2 separate regions of the Homo sapiens genome follow, and region 2 is linked to region 1. The links come from fine-mapping of genetic effects on gene expression. A gene starts in region 1. The other region holds a variant in brackets. All regions are shown on one strand. Distances are from middle to middle.

Region 1 (4,378 bases):
GGCTGTCCCTGCCGGTGTAGGCTCCACAGCACCAACCCTCCAGCGGGAACACCCTCTCTCATCAACTGCCCTCCCTGCTGGCCAGGCCCAGCCCTTAGCCAGGTGCTTTTTCAGGGACCAAGTAGAGCTGGGGCCTGACCACAGGCACTTCTTGGAGCCACAGACGCAAAGCAGCAGCCCTCGGGGATTGTTCTTCCCCAGCCACCGGCCCAGAGTGTGGCTGGTCAATCGTGGGGACCCAGGACTGGCTGGACGCACAGCTCTAGGGCCCAGTACCTCCCACAGCCTCTGCAGCCTTGGGCGGGGGAGAGGGGTGAGCCAGTCCTGAATTGGGTTGGGAGGAGCAGGGACAAAAATAACCCAGTACAGGTTCCTGCTGAGGCCAGAAATAGCATAGTGACAAGTGCCTTGTAACACCCTGGATGAGCAGCAGGGGGAGGCTGAGCTGAGGCTGGCCCAGCCTCACACCAGGCCCTGGCCGGGCTACATACCACATGGTCCGTGTGTACACACGCGTGTGGGGGGCCCGAGAGACCATGGCTCAGGACAGGGAATCTGGAGAGATGCTGAACTTGGGCTTGGCCTTGGCCATGGGCACGCTGCGCTTGCGCAGGGGCCCGCGGGCTGAGGCGAGGGTCAGAGCTTCCAGTAGGCTGTGGTCCTCATCAAGCTGGCGGGCCGTGCAGAGTGGTGTGGGCACTTTGACGGTGTTGCCAAACTTGGAGTAGTCCACAGAGTAACGTCCGTCCTCCTCAGCTACAATGGGCACAAAGCGCTGGCCCCACAGGATCTCATCGGCCAGGTAGGAGGTGCGGGCCTGGGTGGTGATGCCCGTGGTTTCCACCACGCCTTCCAGGATGACGATGATCTCGAGGTCCTGGTGGTGGTGCAGGTCGCTGGGTGCCAGGTCGTAGAGTGGGCTGTTGGCATCAATGACATGGTAGATGATCAGCGGGGCCACCAGGAAGATGCTGTTGCCACCCACGCCGTTCTCCATGGGGATGTCCACCTGGTGGAGGGGCACCACCTCGCCCTCGGGGCTGGTGGTCTTGCGTACCACCTGCATGTGGATGGTGGCGCTGATGATCATGCTCTTGCGGAGGTCACCCACACGTAGCATGAAGCAGAGGCGGCCGTGGCGCAGGGCGATCACCGCATGCTTGCTGAAGATGAGGGTCTCAGCCCTGCGGTGGGCTTGGGCAGTCTTCATGAAGATGCAGCCAAGCATGATGGCGTTGATCATGAGCCCCACGATGTTCTGCACGATGAGGATCAGGATGGCCAGTGGGCACTCCTCAGTCACCATGCGCCCCCCAAAGCCAATAGTCACTTGGACCTCAATGGAGAAAAGGAAGGCAGACGAGAAGGAGTGGATGCTGGTGACACAGGGCTCAGCAGTGCCCTCGCTGGGGGCCAGGTCACCGTGGGCGAAGGCGATGAGCCACCAGGCCATGGCGAAGAGCAGCCAGCTGCACAGGAAGGACATGGTGAAGATGAGCAATGTGTGTGGCCACTTGAGGTCCACCAGCGTGGTGAACACGTCCTGCAGGAAGCGGCCCTGCTCCCGGATGTTCTTGTGGGCCACGTTGCAGTTGCCTTTCTTGGACACAAAGCGGGCCCTCCGCTGGCGGGCACGGTACCTGGGCTTGGCAGGGTCCTCTGCCAGGCGTGTCAGCACGTATTCCTCGGGGATGATGCCCTTGCGGGACAGCATGGCTCCGGTGACCCCCAGGGAGGGGCTTCCCCCATCGGAGGCACCCCTCGGACGTGGCCTAGGGCCTCACTGCAGAGTCCTCTCGGTGGGCACCTTCTCACCCTGGGGCTGCACTCAGCCTGTGCTGGCCTCACTTCTGAGATAACTCCCCACCAGACTCTTCCTTACCTCCACCTGGGTCCCACTTCACTTCTTAATACCAGCCTCAGGCCGGGCGCGGTGGCTCACGCCTGTAATCCCAGTACGTTGGGAGGCTGAGGAGGGCAGATCACTAGGTCAGGAGTTCGAGACCAGCCTGACCAACATGGTGAAACCCCATCTCTACTAAAAATACAAAAGTTAGCCGGGCATGGTGGTGCGCACCTGTAATCCCAGCTACTCAGGAAGCTGAGGCAGGAGAATCGCTTGAACCCGAGAGGCGGAGGTTGCAGTGAGCCAAGATCACGCCACTGCACTCCAGCCTGGGCGACAGAGCGAGACTCCGTCTCAAAAACAAAAAACAAAACAAAAAAAACAGCCTCACCCTTGAGCCCACCTGCCTGGCGCCTAGGGAGCCCCCAACCCTGCCGGCTCTCCACCTGGCCCTGCGTCCTCCCCCAGCTTCCCCCACCAGCTGACCACCCCTGGGCCTCCCGCTAAGAGCCCTTCTCCCCGCCCAGCCTGCCTTCCCAGCCCAGCTCAGAACTTAACACCTCCGGATCTCTCCCACTAACCGGACCTCACCCCCACCTCCGGGTCTCCCGCCTCACCTGTCTGGCCTTCGGGCTCCCAGGCTCCAGCTCAGGTCCTGGCCACCCCCGCCCCGTCTCTCCTCCAGGTGCGCCCCCTATGTCCTACTCCACCCCTCCCGGAGCGCCCCCGCCGCTTTCCGGATCCCCCTCCAGCTCTCGTCCTCTCTGTCTCCTTGGGATCCTGCGTTCTCTGGAGTCACCACCCCACCCGGCTCAACCGCGGCTCCCCGGACCTGCGCGCGACCCGGCGGGGCTGACTCCGAGTCGCGGCCTCCCGGTCCCTGCCGCCCGCCCGCGCCGCGGCTCCCGCTCCGCGCCGGGTCCCGGCCCCGCCCGCCGCCGCCGCTGCACCTGCTCCTGCTCCTCACGCCACGGCCGTCGCCTCCCCGCCCCCTCCCGCCGCCCGGGCGCTCGCGGCTGGCCGTCCTCCCGTCTGTCTGTCCGTCCGTGGGTCCGCGGAGACCGACCTGGGCTAGGCAGGGGTCTAGGACGGCGGGAGGGGGGCGCACGAGGAGAGGAACGGGGCCGGGGACCGCCAGGGGGAGCCCGACCTGCACCGGAGCGCAGGGGGCGGGGCCGGAGCAAGCCCCCGCCCCTCCCGCGCCCCTCCCCGCCCCCGCCCTCCACCTCCCCTCCCGGGACTCACAACCCGGCCTTTGGAGTTTTTCTGATCCGCGGAACCCAGAGGTTCCTCCTGCCCACGCTCTACGAAAGTGGGGGGCTGGGAGGGATCTGTGACCCGCCCTCCCAGTCTGGGGCCGCCGCCCTGTCGCCCTGGCTCCCCTCCCCCAATATCCCCATCCGTATTTGGGTCAGTAATCCGCCTCTCGGCCGCGCCAGGTTTGCAGGTTCCCCGGGAAAGGAGGCGCTGAGAGGCGGCGCCACCAATCCCAGGGCTGGCGGAAATTAGGCGGTCCGAGGACTTCTCAACCTGCAGCTGCTTCTCTTTGGGGGATGCTCTTAATCTTAGTCTTGAATCCTTTGACAATCTGATGGAAGCTCAGACTCCCTCTCATTAAAAAAAAAAAAAAAAAAAAAAAAAAAAAAGGCCTCGGCAGGAAAGGAGCACAGTTTAACACCTGCTACTGCTGTGGGGCAGCCTGGGCGGCTCCATCTTCTCAGCCATTCCGGCCCTACTTTAAAGAAGGTTTGAGCCGAGGCCACTTGCTTTACACTTTCTCACACCTGTCACCTGACTTCTTCCACGTTAGGTCATGGGTGGTATTTAGGCCTGAACAGTGTGTTAGGGCTGCCTCGGGCACTGGGGGACCCAGGCTCTTGGTCCCGGCATGGTGGTGTTTCTGTTCAGGCATCAGCCTGAGGCTGCCCTGTGGCATGGACCCGGGTTCTCAGCTGGGAGGGAAAGCCTGCTAGATCTCTGTTGTTGGAACAGTAACGGCTTTACCGCTGTCTGTGGCTCAGATCCTTATGGAAGAACCCCTGACCATCTGCGGCCATTTTGTTGGAGTGGGGGCTTGAGACAGGGTCTGGAAAAGGCAGTGTGGCTGTGGGCCACAGTGGGGGCAAGATATGCATTTTATATTGGATTTTCCTTTCTCTCCCTACCCACCTGCAGGCAGAGCGAACACCGCTACAAAGGATGGGTGTGATCATGGGCTATATTAACAAAGATGCAGTGTCTAGGAAGGGGAGGGTAAAATGAGATGAGCAGAGTGGGAAGCTCAAGGAGACAGGGTTACATGGGGAAATCTCTGAGGCAACTACAACTGTCCAGCCATCAGAAAAGGAAAGTCCCCCAGGGATTTGGGCACTATTGCAGAAACACCTGGCCTTGAAGGAGGATGAACTAGTAGTTTTTTGTGGCCCAAAGGGTAGAACCAGGACACTAAGTGGAACAGAGGCAGGCTTTGGTTTCACATATGCAAGAGTCAGTTCTAATAACAATAACCAGAGATGAGCCACATCTGTGGGG
Region 2 (4,382 bases), 36 kb after region 1:
CTCAATGCCCAGGATAGGTGGGCCAGCCAGAGCAGTGCACATGTCTAGATTTTGAGAGACAAACAGCAGATGAAGCTAATTGAGTCGTATCTGCCTAGACTCCTTCTCCTAGCCACTATAAGGAGCTGCAGACTGACCTTCCTTCCTGGAGTCTGTCTGTCTTTTCTTTTTCTCTCTCCCCAGTCCATCATCCTTTGTCATAAGCATGATCCTTCTGCAGCATTTGGGCTAAAACTTACTTCCTAGAGGTAAGCACTGTATCCATAGTGCTTTTGCTAAATGAATTCATTTGCGAAATGAGTGAACCAAAAACAACTTAAGATCTTCAAGAGGCTGCCATTAGAATGCATCTTGACATCTCTCATTTCCCCATGCATTTGCCCAAGCTGTTTCCTAACCCAGTACCTACCTCTCTTCTTGATCAATACTTGGAATGAGTGAATATTAATGCACACCTCACACTGTGTTATGATTATTTGCTAATACCTCCCTTCCTACAGTCTGTCTGTCTTTTTCTCTGTTTCCCCAATCCATCATCCTTTATCACAAGCATGGTTCTTTTGCAACCTTTGGGTTAAATCTTACTTCTCAGACCTACTACATGGGATCTAAGCCAAGTTCACTTCTTCAGTCCCATCTTTCATAATGCACCCCATGCATCCAGTGTTCCAGGTGCACAGAACTATGTTCTTTAATATCAGCAAGGCTTTGCCCACACCATCACCCCTGCCTGGACCACCTCCCTTTCCCATCCCTGCCTTTTCTACTTGATGAAACCACACTCATCCTTCAAGGCTCAAATACCACATCCGCAGTGAGCCTCCTCTCCTTGACTGCAGAGTCAATTGTGGTTCCTCTGAGCTCTTCTAAGGCCCAGGTCTTCTCTCCCCTCTCTTAAAAGCGGGGCCGGCCAGGGGTGGTGGCTCATGCCTGTAATCCCAGCACTTTGGGAGGCTGAGGCGGGCGGATCATGAGGTCAGGAGTTCGAGATTACCCTGGCCAACATAGTGAAACCCCGTCTCTACTAAAAATACAAAAAATTAGCCGGCATGGTGGTGTACACCTGTAGTCCCAGCTACTTGGGAGGCTGAAGCAGGAGAATCGCTTGAACCTAGGAGGCAGAGCTTGTGAGGAGCTGAGATCGCACCACTGCACTCCAGCCTGGGCAACAGGGCGAGACTCCGTCTCAAAAAAAAAAAAAAAAAAAAAAAGCAGGGGCCACGTCTTAGTCACCTTTGCACTCCTGTTGCTGTCACAGGGTCTAGTATACACTAGGCGCTCAACTGGGTGAGTGAATACGTCACTGTGGACGCTGGAGAATGAGTTGACTTGGGAACAAATTCTCATGATTTCCCAGGGTTGGCTGCAAGCTAACAAATGCACTTCACTATGCTTGAAAGGGAAGCTGGACCAGGACCGGGCGAGAGAGCAAAGAGGATCCTGGAGAAATGAGACCCCTTCACTACCGCCCCTCTGCGAGCCTCGAACAGAGCTGGGAGCTGGGGCCTAGGCTACCTGTAAAGGAGAGTAAGTGTTGATAAGGACAGAGCTGTGAGGACCCACGTGGCAGTTCTGGGAGGAGGCAGGTGTGTGTGAGTCATGGCCACAGCGGCTGCTGGCCTTTGGACTGTCAGGCTAGCTATGCCTTCTTCATGAGGCTCTTGTGCCCCTTCTCTTTGAGCACATGGTGGCAAACCAATGCACTTGAGCACCTAGGTGCAAATCCCACTTCTGCCATTTAACAGCTGGGTGGCCTTGGACAACTTGCTTCACCTCAGTTTCCTAATCTGATAAATGAGGATATAATAATATCTACTGCACAGAGTTCGGTGCAGACTGACTGAGATGATGAGGTGCCTGCACAGTGCCTGGCCTATAATAAGTGCTTAGGCAGGAACAGAAAACCAACCACCACATGTGCTCACTATAAGTGGGAGTTGAACAATGAGAACACGTGGACACAGGGAGGGGAACATCACATACCGAGCCTGTCGGGGGGTGGGAGGCAAGAGGAGGGAGAGCATTAGGA[C/A]AAATACCTAATACATGTGGGGCTTAAAAAGATGACAGGTTGATAGGTGCAGCAAAGCACCATGGCACATGTATAGCTATGTAACAAACCTGCACACTCTGCACATGTATCTCAGAACCTAAAATAAAATAAAAAATAATAAAAAAAAGAAGTGCTTAGGGTCCTCTGCCTTGGAGAGGCTCCTTGTGTTCCCTGGGCTGGGGCAGAGGTTTCCTAAGAGAGAGGGGCAGCAGTCAGACCCGGAGGGTTGGCACAGCTTGGAGAAGAGGTGGGGACTGAGGCAGGGCAGAGCAGACCCCTGCCAATCATGCCTGCTTCATCTACATAGGACAAGGAGAGCTCCTGAGGCAGGCACGATGCCACATGAGGGCATGAGGGTGGGGGAGGAGAAGAAAGCAGGGCAAAGGGACCAGGTTCAGAGTGGGTTTTGACATCCATGCTGAGCAGGTCAAGGCAGGGGCAGCTCCAGTGTCTGAGCCCTGCAATCCTTCTGGAAAAGCCCTGCCTTGGAGGAGAGCCCAGATCCAGCCTGACCACTACATGGGGCTTGGACAATAACCCTTAGGACTAGGCCCTGGGGGCCCCAGCAGTGACCAGGTTTGAGGGAAAGAACATGGGCAGAGTCTCTGCTCCACACACTGACTAGTAAGTCACCCAACTTCTCTGAGCCTGAGTTTCTGCTTCTGTGAAATGGGGTAACAACACTCCCCTCCTAAACTTAGTAGGAGGCTTGATGAGATCATGTTGACAATGCACTTAGCAAAGGGCATGGCCCATAGGAGGTACCCAATAAATATTGGTTACTTTCTTCAGCTCACAGTGCACTGGGGACTCTTGTCTTCTTGCTGCAGGCATGCAGTTGGACAGCAGAAAAGGGCTCCTCCCTCCAAAGGCTGGAGAGGCAGTCGGAATAAGGCAATATGATCTCAAACCGAATACCTGGGCCTTCCCAGTCAGGCTATGTTGAAAAATCTCCCAAATAAAATGGCGAATGGAGGCAAAGACCCCTCTGCCCCCAAAGACATCACAGTCCCTGATGGGAGGTGATGGGAAACCCAAGGGGCTCATCTGCTAGCCCACGACCCCACTGAGGAGGGAAATTTGCCATCTTTTGGATACACCATTCAGGGACATCTTGGAAATGCAGGAAACGGGGGTGCATGTTGATATTCAGACATTGGGCCCAAAGTCTTTCTCCCTGCTCAGTTCTGTACTCATGCTTATGAAAAACCTGACACCTTCAATAATTTTCCCCTAGAAATGATTGGTAGGGAAAGCTTGCCCTTCTGCTGATTGGCTGCAACTTTTATTCCTAAATGAATACTCCAAAGCCCAGAGATCCCTTTTTCCCTTGGCTACCAGAGGGCACAGAGCCAGGTTTTATGTTGATGGCTGTAGTTGTCCTCTGCCCAGGTTGCTGAACATCTTTTTACCCTCTTCATTTCTCAGTTCCTATTTTCTTACCTTTTTAAAGGGTTTTATTTTACATGCATCTTTTTTTATTATACTTCAAGTTCTGGGATATACGTGCAGAACGTGCAGGTTTGTTACATAGGTATACACATGCCATGGTGGTTTGCTGCACCCATCAACCCTTCATCTACATTAAGTATTTCTCCTAATGCTATCCCTCCCCTTGCCCCCCACCCCCAGACAGGCCCCAGTGTGTGATGTTCCCCTCCCTGTGTCCATGTGTTCTCATTGTTCAACTCCCACTTATGAGTGAGAACATGTGGTATTTGCTTTTCTGTTCCTGTGTGAGTTTGCTGAGAATGATAGTTTCCAGCTTCATCCATGTCCCTGCAAAGGACACGAACTCAACCTTTTTTATGTCTGCATAGTATTCCATGGTGTATATGTGCCACATTTTCTTTATCCAGTCTATCATTGATGGGCATTTGGGTTGTTTCCAAGTCTTTGCTATTGTGAATAGTGCTGCAATAAACATACGTCTGCATGTGTCTTTATAGTAGAATGATTTATAATCCTTTGGGTATATACCCAGTAATGGAATTGCTGGGTCAAATGGTATTTCTGGTTCTAGATCCTTGAGGAATCACCGCACTGTCTTCCACAATGGTTGAACTAATTTACACTCCCACCAACAGTGTAAAAGCGTTCCTATTTCTCCACATCCTCTCCAGCATTTGTTGTTTCCTGACTTTTTAACGATCACCATTCTAACGGGTGTGAGATGGTATCTCATTGTGGTTTTGATTTTTACATGAATCTTTCATCAACTAGTTTCAAGTGCTTCTTGGAAGTAGGTGGGTATAAATAACAGATTCGTGATTGACTGAGCCTGGGGTTCTGGCTCTTTAATTAAGACAGTGATCTTTGCCCAGAAACCAAC

Alleles and levels. Alleles are on the strand shown, and positions count from the first base shown. SD is a standard deviation of normalised expression in the study named.
With allele C in place of A in region 2, the expression in putamen of the gene that starts at base 2,282 in region 1 is lower (moderate effect, 0.50 SD a copy in GTEx).

The links. PIP is the estimated chance that this variant, and not a neighbour inherited with it, causes the effect.
Region 2: its variant is fine-mapped to the expression of KCNJ11 in putamen (GTEx, PIP above 0.99). The same link has a PIP of 0.9 or more in caudate and nucleus accumbens.

The regions. Positions count from the first base shown.
Region 1 is chr11:17,386,378-17,390,755 of GRCh38, forward strand. KCNJ11 (potassium inwardly rectifying channel subfamily J member 11) reads right to left here and starts at 2,282. Exons shown (of 1, transcript NM_000525.4): 1 at 1-2,282. The coding sequence starts at 1,714. The coding sequence ends at 542. RefSeq lists enhancers at 157-810, 811-1,464 and silencers at 2,673-3,182, 3,263-3,362.
Region 2 is chr11:17,422,169-17,426,550 of GRCh38, forward strand. All of the region lies in intron 16 of ABCC8 (ATP binding cassette subfamily C member 8), which reads right to left. Among named protein-coding and RNA genes, the nearest start is that of KCNJ11, 36 kb to the left of the region's middle. The variant C/A (reference allele first, on the strand shown) is at 2,030.